Regions from separate parts of the Homo sapiens genome. Here region 1 is linked to region 2. The links come from fine-mapping of genetic effects on plasma protein levels. A gene starts in region 2. The other region holds a variant in brackets. All regions are shown on one strand. Distances are between the middles of the regions. Region 1 has its middle 51 kb from the start of QTRT2. Region 2 holds the start of GRAMD1C (GRAM domain containing 1C).

Region 1 (5,384 bases), 270 kb after region 2:
AAATTTAAATAGAAAAAAGCTTATAGAATAAGTATATAAAGAAAGAAAATATTTTTGTCCAGCTGTCCAATGTGTTAAAAAGTATCAGTAAGCTAAGGTTAACTTATCATTGAAGACATAAACATAAAAATGTTTTTGTAAATTTAGTGTAGCCTAAATGTGCAGTGTTTATAAAGTCCACAGCCTACAGTCTACAGTAGTATACAGTAGTGTCCTAGGCCTTCATATTCATTTATCATTCACTCATTGACTAACAGCAACTTCCAGTCCTGCAAACTCCATTCATAGTAAGTGCCCTAAACAGGTGTAGCATTTTAAAAGGTACAGTAAAAATATAGGATAAAAGGTTTTTAGGACACTAATATGATTTTTTTTTTTTTTTTTTTTTTTGAGACAGAGTCTCCCTCTGTCACCAGGCTGGAGTGCAGTGGCACGATCTTGGCTCACTGCAACCTCTGCCTCCTGGGTTCACGCCATTCTCCTGCCTCAGCCTCCCTAGTAGCTGGGACTACAGGCACGCACCACCATGCACATTTCACACTGATCTCTGCCCTCATCTTCTTGTGGCATTCTCTCTCTTCTCTCTTTCTCTGTCTCTGTGTGTGCATGTGTGTCTGTCTGCAAACTTCCCCTTTTTATAAGAACACCAGTCAGATTATATTAATGCCTACTCTAATGACCTCATTTTAACTTGATAACCTCTGTCTCCAAATAATGCCATATTCTGAGGTATTGGGGGTTAGGGCTTCAAGATATTTTTTTAGGAGAGGGGATAGAATTTAACTCATAATGATGAAACAAACTCTAATCTATATAAAATTGAAGACTGAATTAGAAAGATGAAGAGAGTATTGAGAAATTCACCCAAAATATACCCCAGAGAGACAAAGGTGTGTGTGTGTGTTTGTGTGTATTTATTCTGAATACATAGATGTGTATTTGTTTATTTATCTATTTACTTCAGTTAAGATACATGAAGGATAGATTGAAAGGTCCCAACATTCCAGCATATCTAATAGTTTTATTGTAGAAGGCATTGGTGGCTGCCTACCCAGTTGCCATTGCTTTTTCGTCATCCTTAATAGCAGAATCTTGATTTTTCTTTTCAGGAAGACAATGTGCCTAACTAAAAATACTTAATTTCTCAGCCTCTCTTGCAACAAAGATAGTCATGTGACCAGTTCTGGACAGTGAGGTAGCAGCAGAAGTTCCTAGGCTGACCATTCTTTTCTTAGTACAAAGTCAAAGTCCCATTAGGAGAAAGTGCTTCACCCCATAGTGCTTTGCCCACTGCCCCTGACCTTAAGACAGAAGTCCCAGTTGATTTTTATAGAATAATTTAACAAACCTTCAACAAACAGATAATCTCTACCTTTCAAAAAATAGTGAGGGTGTTCTCACTCATAGGTGGAAATTGAACAATGAGAACACGTGGACACAGGAAGGGGAACATCACACACCGGGGCCTGTTGTGGGGTGAGGGGAGCGGGGAGGGATAGGATTAGGAGATATACCTAATGTAAATGACGAGTTAATGGGTGCAGCACACCAACATGGCACATGTATACATACGTAACAAACCTGCATATTGTGCACATGTACCCTAGAACTTAAAGTATAATAAAAAAAAAAAAGAAAAAGAAAAATAGTGAGGAAAAGCACTCAATTCATTTTATGAGGTTATTATACTTTTGTAACAAAGCTATTAAAAAAAGACCAGTATTTCTCATAAATACAGATTTAAACATTCTAAATAAAATGTTGTGTGTGTGTATACATATGTATATTATATATATATACATACATTATTTATATATATATATTTCCCCCTCACCCCATGGCCAAGATTAATTGATCCTAAGAATAACATACAATCAATTAAGAGGAAAAAATATGGTCAATGTAATAGATACAGAAAATAGAAAGCACGTTTGATAAACCTTATGCATTCTCATACTTACTCATTTAAGGGGAAAAATTAGCAGAATTAGTGTTAGGAGGAGCAAGTTGCTATTATATAAAGTGTTCCTTTTATAGATGACATTTGAGTAGAAGAGGTGAAGGAAGAAAGCCAGGCATGCTGATATCTGGGGGAAGAATGTTAGGAATATAGACTTTAAGATGGAAGCATGGGTAAGGCTTTTCAATTTATGTAGAAACAACCAACCAAACTCTTAGCACCTATGGATAGAAGACAATACTCTTAACTGCACAAAAAGTATCTATCAAAATCTTACAAACATTAATGATGAAACTTTATTACACTATATTGTCACAACCATTCTACATTCTACTGGACCTA[C/T]GAGACAATGCAATAAGATGAGAAATAATGGAAGGTATAAAACTTACAAAGACATTCCAAAGCAGACCTTATTTGCAGTCAACATATTTGACTACATAGGAAATCTAAGAGAATCTACATGAGTTAATCAGAAAGTCATTGAATGCTGCTAGATCCAAGATCAATATAAAAAAATTGTATTTCTATATACCAGTAATAAGCAAATTGCAACTGTAATAGATAATGGTATATCATCAACAATGGCAATAAAACTGTAAAGTGTTTAGGAACAAATCATACCCTTTAGATTAGCAAATTAAGTAGTTAATTTAAAAGATTGAATACAATGTGGATAAATGGGAACTTTCATATACTGGGAATGGGAAAGTAAATTAATGCAACTGCTTTGGAGAATGCATTAGTCCATTTTCGTGTTGCTATAAAGGAATACCTGAGATTGGGTAATTTTTTTTTTATAAAAGAGATTTTATTTGGCTCATGTTTCCGCAGGCTGTACAAGAAGTGTGGTGCCAGCATCTGCTTCTGGGGACAGCCTCAGGAATCTTTCAATCATGGAAGAAGGTAAAGGCAGAGTCAGTGCATCATATGGTGAGAGAGGGAGCAAGAGAGATGGGGGGACAGCCCAGCACGGTGGCTTACGCCTGTAATCCCAACACTTTGGGAGGCCAAGGAGGGCGGATCACTTGAGGCCTGGAGTTCCAGACCAGCCTGTCCAACATGATGAAACCCGGTCTCTACTAAATACAAAAATTAGCCAGGTGTGACGGCGCACGCTTGTAATCCCACCTGCTTGGGTGGCTGAGGCGGGAGAATCGCTTGAGCAGGAGGCAGAGGTTGCAGTGAGCTGAGATCGCGCCACTGCACTGCAACCTGGGTGACAGAGCGATTCTCCCTCTCCAGAGAGAGATGGGGGGAAGTACCACACTCTTTTAAACAACCAGAACTCAGAGAGGGGAACTCACTGATCACCAAGGGTTTGGCACTAAGCCATTCATGAGGGATCCACCCCCATGTGCACAGTTCACAATAGGGTTGGTGCTCCTATGAGAATCTAATACCTTTGCTGATCTGATAGGCAGTAATGCTTACTAGCCTGCTGCTCACCTCCTGCTGTGCAGACCCATTCCTAACAGGCCATGGACCAGTAGGGGTCCGTGGCCGAGGGACTGGGGACCCCTGTTCTACAGAATGTTCAGCACACATGCTCAAGGATACTTATGCAAAAATATTCATTGTAGCTTTTCAAAACAATAAAGATTTGATAACAAAGTAAATGAATATCACAGGAAAATACTATGGTTGTGTAGCAAATAAAATAAATAAATGAACTACACTTACGTATATCAATTTATGTGATAAAAGCAAGTTTCACATAAAAAAGAATAGTGCTTAATATAAAGTTTAAAAGCATGAAATCCAATATTATAGAGATACATGTGTATGTAACAAAACATAAAGTACGATGAAAAGGGGTAAACATTTGGCCGGGCGCAGTGGCTCACACCTGTAATCCCAGCACTTTGGGAGGCCAAGGCAGGTGGATCATGAAATCAGGAGTTTGAGACCAGCCTGACCAACATAGTGAAATGCCATCTCTACTGAAAAAACAAAAAAACAAAAAAACAAAAAAACAAAAAAAACTACAAAAATTGGCTGGGCGCGGTGGCAGGTGCCTGTAATCCCAGCTACTCAGGAGGCTGAGGCAGGAGAATCGCTTGAACCCTGGTGGCAGAGGTTGCTGTGAGCCAAGATCATGCCACTGCACTCCAGCCTGGGCAACAGAGTGAGACTCCATCTTAAAAAAAAAAAAAGGGGTAAACATTTAATGCCAGAAAGGGATTTCTTATGGGCATGGGAGGAGGAAAATGTTATAGGAGTTTACATATATTTGTAAAGTATCCCTTCTTTTAAAAGATTTGAAATGACCAAATGTTAATGTTTGATAAAGCTATTAGATACAGGTATTCTTTTAAGTATTCTGAGCTTTTGATATATTTTATAATATTTTCAAAAGTGAGATGATCTTCCAGGAAGCTGACATTTTTTATCTCATGGACCACATCTAGTGTTGCAGAACTTAGGGTTTCTGCCCAGTGAGTACTCCAATTCTCTCTTAGTTCTCTATCTCCCCTTTGGGAGTTAGTTTGGTCAAACCTGTGTAATCACCAGGGAAGCACAACAAAAGCCAGCTATTTATTTGTTCTCCCTATGGCTTTTCTTTTTTTTTTTCCCCCTAACATGAATTAAAACTCGTGTTCTGGTTTCTATCCCCATGACGTTGCTCATCAATTGACATTATTAAGCAAATACTTCAAGAACTTTGAAATTTCTCTTCCAATTCCTCAGGGCGTGGCGATAATTGTGAGTGGAAAGACAGTGAGGTGGGATTACCAGGCAAGCTTTTGTTTTCTTCTTGATTGAAAGGATTTACTCCTCTTTTTAGCTTCTCATTGAATCGTTTCTTTCTAACAAGTATCTCACAGCTTTTCTCTCTCTTTTCCTAAAGCACAATTTAATTTATTTTTATCTGATAAGGCATTTTTTAAACTTCCCTTCTATGTCTACTCCACATAGAACAACTTTGCTTATCCTACAGAACCTTTGCGTCCTCATTTTACCTTCCTCTGCAACTCTTGAGCAAGCCCCGCCCTTGTCTCCACGCCCTCCATCTTGGTCTCCCAGATGTCTTTGTCTTTATTATATTTTCAAAAGTGAAACAAATCAGTTAAGAAGACAGTGATATTTCTGTCTCTCGAAAACCCATTTCCTTGGCCTTTCCTTTCTCTTTGTTTGGGTGGGAATAGGACAATTTTTGATTTAAAAAACTCAGAGTTCCCAGCTCAAAATCCTCCCTAAAGTTAATTCATTCCTGCCCAGTTTTATGTTCAAAAATCCTGTCCTTGATTTTTTAGGCAGCATACCTATGATTAAGCATACACAGTGAATATCCTTTTACATATGAATCATGCTTTCCAATGTATATTTCTTTGCACATTAATTTTTTCCCCAATAGTTCTGTGAAGTAGACAGGACAGAGAGAATTGCCCTCATTTTACTCCTGAGGAAGCAGAGGCATAGAGAC
Region 2 (5,384 bases):
CAATAATTAACGTTTCGCTATTTTGTTTTCTCTGTGTATTCATCTTCGTGGAAGCATTTGGAAGCAAGTTGCAGACATGGTGCTACTTCACTCCTAAATACTTTTTTTTTTTTACATCCCCATGGATAACAGGGAACTCCTAAATATTTTAGTGTGAGTTTTCTAATATTAAAGACACCCTGCAACATAGCCACAAGTTATTATTATTATTATTATTTATTATTATTATTTGAGACGGAGTTTCACTCTTCTTGCCCAGGCTGGAGTGCAATGGCCTGATCTCGGCTCCCTGCAGCCTCCACTTTCCAGGTTCAAGCGATTCTCCTGCCTCAGCCTCCCAAGTAGCTGAGATTACAGGTGCTCACCATCACGCCCGACTAATTTTTGTATTTTTAGTAGAGACAGGGTTTCACCATGTTGGCCAGGTTGGTCTCAAACTCCTGACCTCAGGTGATCCTCCCACCTCAGCCTCCCAAAGTGCTGGGATTACAGGCTTGAGCCACCACGCCCAGCTGCCAAAAATTATTAATTATCCATAAATGAATATCCATAAATGTATACATAAATCATTAATTATCCTGTAACATCAACTCTAATAGCCATTTCATATTCACTATTCCTCAATTGTTCTAGAATGTCTTCCCTCCCTCCCTTCCTTCCTTCTTTCCTTCCTTCCTTCCTTCCCTCTCTCTCTCTTTCTTTCTCTCTCTCTGTCTCTCTTTTCTGGAGATGGGGCCCCCCTGTTTTGCCCAGGCTGGTCTTGAACTCCTGGACACAAGCAACCCTCCCACCTTAGTCTCCCAAAGTGCTGGAATTACATGAGTTAGCCACTGTGCCTGGCTTAGAATGTCTTTTTTATAGCTGTTTGGTTGGGAACTCTGAACCCCAAATATCTGAGACAGGCCTCAGTTAATTTAGAAAATTTATTTTGTGAAGGTTAAGGACACACCTGTGACACAGTCTCAGGAAGTCCCAATGACATGTGTCCAAGGTGGTTGGGGTACAGCTTGCTTTTATATATTTTGGGCAGACCTAATACATCAATCAATACATGTAAGATTTACATTGTTTCAATCTGGAAGGGGAGACAGCTCCAAGGCGAGAAGGAGGAACTTTCAGGTCATTGGTACATAAAAAAATTTTCTGATTTGCAATTGGTTGAAAGCGTTATTATTGACTGGGAGCTGTGGCTTGCACGTGTAATCCCAGCACTTTGGGAGGCCGAAGGGGGCAGACTGCTTGAGTCCAGGAGTTCGAGACCAGTCTGGGCAACATGGCGAAACCCTGTCTCAAAAAACAAACAAACAAACAAACAAACAAACAAACAAAGTAGTTAAGCATGGTGGCACACGCCAGTAGTCCCAGCTACTCGAGAGGCTGAGGTGGGAGGATTGGTTGAGTCCGGGAGGTGGAGGTTGCAGTGAGCAGAGATTGCGCCACCGCACTCCAGCTGGTCTAATAGAGCCAGAACCTGTCTCAAAAGAAAAAGAGAAAAAAGAGTTATTATCAGTAGAAAGGAATGTCTGGGTTAGGATAAGGGGTTGTGGATACCAAGGTTTTATCATGCAGATGCAGCCTCCAAGTAGCAGGTGTCCGAGGCAATAGATGATAAATATTTCTTCTCAGACTTAAGGTCTGTGTTGATGTTAATGAGGCATGTCCAATCCCCTCTTTCATCATGGCCTGAACTAGATTTTCAGGTTAAATTTGGAACGCTCTTGGCCAAGAGGAGGGGTCCATTTAGATGGCTGGGGGTGGGCCTCGGCATTTTATTTTTGGTTTACAGAACCAAGAATCTGCAATACGTACAGCAGTTAATCAGTAACTTCAATCCTTTATTGGAAGGAACAAGAGTTTCCTGGCCGGGGGCGGTGGCTGACGCCTGTAATCCCAGCACTTTGGGAGGCCAAGGCCAGCGGATTGCCTGAGGTGGGGAGTTCGAGACCAGCCTGACCCACATGGTGAAACCTTGTCTCTACTAAAAATACAAAAATTATCCGGGCGTGGTGGCAGGCGCCTGTAACCACAGCTACTCGGGAGGCTGAGGCAGGAGAATCGCTTGAACTGGGAGGCGGAGGTTGCAGTTAGCCGAGACGGGGCCTTGGCACTCCATCCAGCCTGAGGAATGAGAGCGAAACTCCGTCTCAAAAAAAAAAAAAAAAAGTTTCCGAGCAATTCACCTTTTCGCACATTGGGGCAGGGTATGCCATTTCCTGGGAGGCACAGTAGTTTGAGGTTGGGAATAGGGAAGTCTCATTGTGACCCCTAGAAAGACAAGCCTTCAGGCTAACCCGGTAACACCCATCGTCAGGAATCCTTCACGGCCGCCAGAGGGCGCAAGGAGCTGCGGCTGGAAGTACTCGGAGGGCCGGCGGAGGAGGCGCGCGGAGCCTGTAACTCGCAGCGCGCGCTGGAGGTGGGCGCGGGGCGGTGCGGTGCGGTGCGCGCGGGGCGGTGCCGCGGCGGCGGAGGGAGCCGCGATGGAGGGCGCTCCGACTGTCCGTCAGGTAAGCCGCGGGCCTCGCTGGGGCAGGTTCCCATCTGTGGCTTTAGCCTACTTTTTCTCACGGTGATTGCTTGAACCTTCTCAGATTACAGTTAATCCCTCCCTTCCCTTTTCTTCGTGCTCTTTGGAGTAATACGGAAAGTTGTTACCGAGGAAACGGTTTCCTGTGCCTCTGCGAGCCCTTTCCCTACGGGCGGTGGTGGGGACATTTGCTTCCCTGTGGGCGTTGAGGGCTTGAATTTGGTCCCGAAATGTCCTGGTGCGGATGTCTCAGCCCCAGGCCCCCTTGGGTCAGGCCCCATGGTCGTGATTCTGACCCACTGTCAACGTTTTTTCCAGCCTTGCCCCCTTCCTTTCATTCTCAGCCCTGTTGTAAAGGTCCGGATAGTTTAAATCACTGTGCTGTCAGCCAAGTTTTTGATTTCAACTAGTCTAGTTTTATTTGTTTACTACCTTATTTGACAAAACGGAAAGCGTGCTTATTAATATTCAGGATGAAACCCCGCTTTTGTTGGACGGGCGCCTGCGTTTCTGAACACCATCCTCCTTCTACATTGGTTTGTGTGTATGTATTTTACTTTTAGAGAACTGCGGTCAGTGCTATATCTTCTGAAGAGCGTTATAGTTTACAGATTAGTGGAGGTACACAAATAATTGTTGAATGAACAGATGAATGAGTGTTATTTCACTTGATTTGAAAAACATTACTATGAAATAGTCAAGCTGGATATTCATGAACCCAATCAGTCACTGATTCAGTTATGTCCCTGGCACTGGGTGTTCGGGATTAGATGGTGATTAACACAGACATGATCCCTGCTCTCAATAAGCTTATTGTCTAGACTAGAGATAAAATTATTTCCTCTATTGTAGAGTTAAGGAACAGATGTACAGAGATTGACTTTGCTAAGGACCACACAGCTAATAAGTCAGAGAGACAGGAATCTACTGTAGCCACCCCAGAAAGCCAGAATGGACCCCCATCCCAAATTTGATTCAGGTGTAGAAACTGATGATGCCACACACACACCATGAGGTTGGAGTAGAAACTGATGATGCCACACACACACCCTGAGGTTGGAGTGCAGTGGCGCAATCTCGGCTCACTGCAAGCTCTGCCTCCCGGGTTCACGCCATTCTTCTGCCTCAGACTCCCCAGTAGCTGGAACTACAGGCGCCCGCCACCACGCCCGGCTAATTTTTTGTGTTTTTAGTAGAGACGGGGTTTCACCGTGTTAGCCAGGATGGTCTTGAACTCCTGACCTCATGATCCGCCCGCCTCGGCCTCCCAAAGTACTGGGATAACAGGCTTGAGCCACCACCGCGCCCGGCCCTGAAAAAGTCTTTTACTTACATAATTAAGGTCTCCAGGGAGAGCAAGGCAGGCCTCTCAAGCAGCACTAAAATGGCTTAAGAGAGCCTCAGGAAAAAACTGGCTCCAGGTCTTTTTTTCACCCTTGATGTTTGATGACTGACCTGCACCATTTGAATTTGAATTTGAATTTAAGTCAGCCATTGTGGCCCAGTGCAGTGGCTCATGCCTGTAATTCTAGCACTTTGGGAGGCCAAGGCAGAAAGAAGTATCGCTTGAGGACAGGAATTTGAGACCAGCCTGGGCAACAAAGCAAGACCCTGTATCTACCAAAATAAAAAAAAAAAAGAAAGAAAAATTAACTGGGCATGGTTGTGTGGCGCCTGTGGTCCTAGCTATTTGGGAGGCTGAGATAGGAAGATCACTTGAGCACAGGAGGTTGAGACTGCAGTGACCCCTGTTTGTGCCATTGCACTCCAGCCTGGGTGACAGAGACCAAATTATTTTCAGAAATTTAACCAAGGTGGTAGGCCTTACACTATGTGTGGCACAATAGCCCATCCTCCTTTTGTGAGCTCCTTTGTGAGTATGTCAAAAGACTGTCCTCAGGGGAGGATGTCATCAATGGAATGTTATACTTGTGCTCCTGGAGAAAATTTGATGCAGTTAAGATCTTTCCTGTAAAGGCTGTGTATGATGGCAAGACTGCGTACTCTATGGTTAGCCTGGTAAAGAGATGTTATGTCTCTCTGGAGGTGAAGACCAACTATGGCTGAGGAGGTGTTGAAAGAGACACTGAACAGAACATATTAGCCAAATCTATCACAGCAAAATATTTACTAGTTGTGGACTGGATAGTCAGTAATTTCAACAATGTTGAGTATAGGGGCCTTCCTGGGTAAAATGACATCATCGAGGATGCAGTAATGAACCATGAGGTACCATTCATTCTTACCAAATTTAACAGGCCAAATTGGGCTGTTAAATGGAGAAGCAGTAGGGATAATTACTTTCACAAAGTACTTCTTTCTTTCTTTCTTTTTTTTTTTTTTTTGCGAGACAGAGTCTTGCTCTGTCGCCCAGGCTGGAGTGCAGTGGCACAATCTCAGCTCACCGCAACCTCCACCTCCCGGGTTCAAGCAATTCTCCTGCCTCAGCCTCCCAAGTAGCTGGGATTACAGGCACGTACCACCACGCCCAGCTAATTTTTGTATTTTGTTTTAGTTGAGATGGGGTTTTACCATGTTGGTCAGGCTGGTCTTGAACTCCTGACCTCGTGATCCACCTGGCTTTCCCTCCCAAAGTGCTGAGATTACAGCATGGCGTGAGCCACCGTGCCTGGCTGAAGTAGGTCTTACATAACAAGTTTTAGTCCTTGAAGGCCCTGTTTTGTTTTATATTGGGTTGTATAATTTTAACTGGGCATTGAGAGTGGTGGTCCATAGGGTCTCACTGTTTTGTTTATTTTGAGACAGAGTCTTGCTCTGTCACCTGGGCTGAAGCACAATGGTGCAATCACAACTTACTGTGATCTCCAACTCTTGGACTCTGGCAGTCCTCCCACCT

The links. A credible set is the group of variants that fine-mapping cannot tell apart. PIP is the chance, under the fine-mapping model, that this variant and not a neighbour inherited with it causes the effect. Protein levels are from the aptamer-based SomaScan assay of Sun 2018.
Region 1: its variant is the best candidate, but not a certain one, in a credible set for the plasma level of the GRAMD1C protein (Sun 2018, PIP 0.51).

Annotation. Positions count from the first base shown.
Region 1 is chr3:114,105,066-114,110,449 of GRCh38, forward strand. No RefSeq gene overlaps it. Among named protein-coding and RNA genes, the nearest start is that of QTRT2, 51 kb to the left of the region's middle. The variant C/T (reference allele first, on the strand shown) is at 2,303.
Region 2 is chr3:113,836,430-113,841,813 of GRCh38, forward strand. It overlaps GRAMD1C (GRAM domain containing 1C), which reads left to right and starts at 2,359. Exons shown (of 18, transcript NM_017577.5): 1 at 2,359-2,507. The coding sequence starts at 2,481. RefSeq lists a silencer at 2,372-2,571.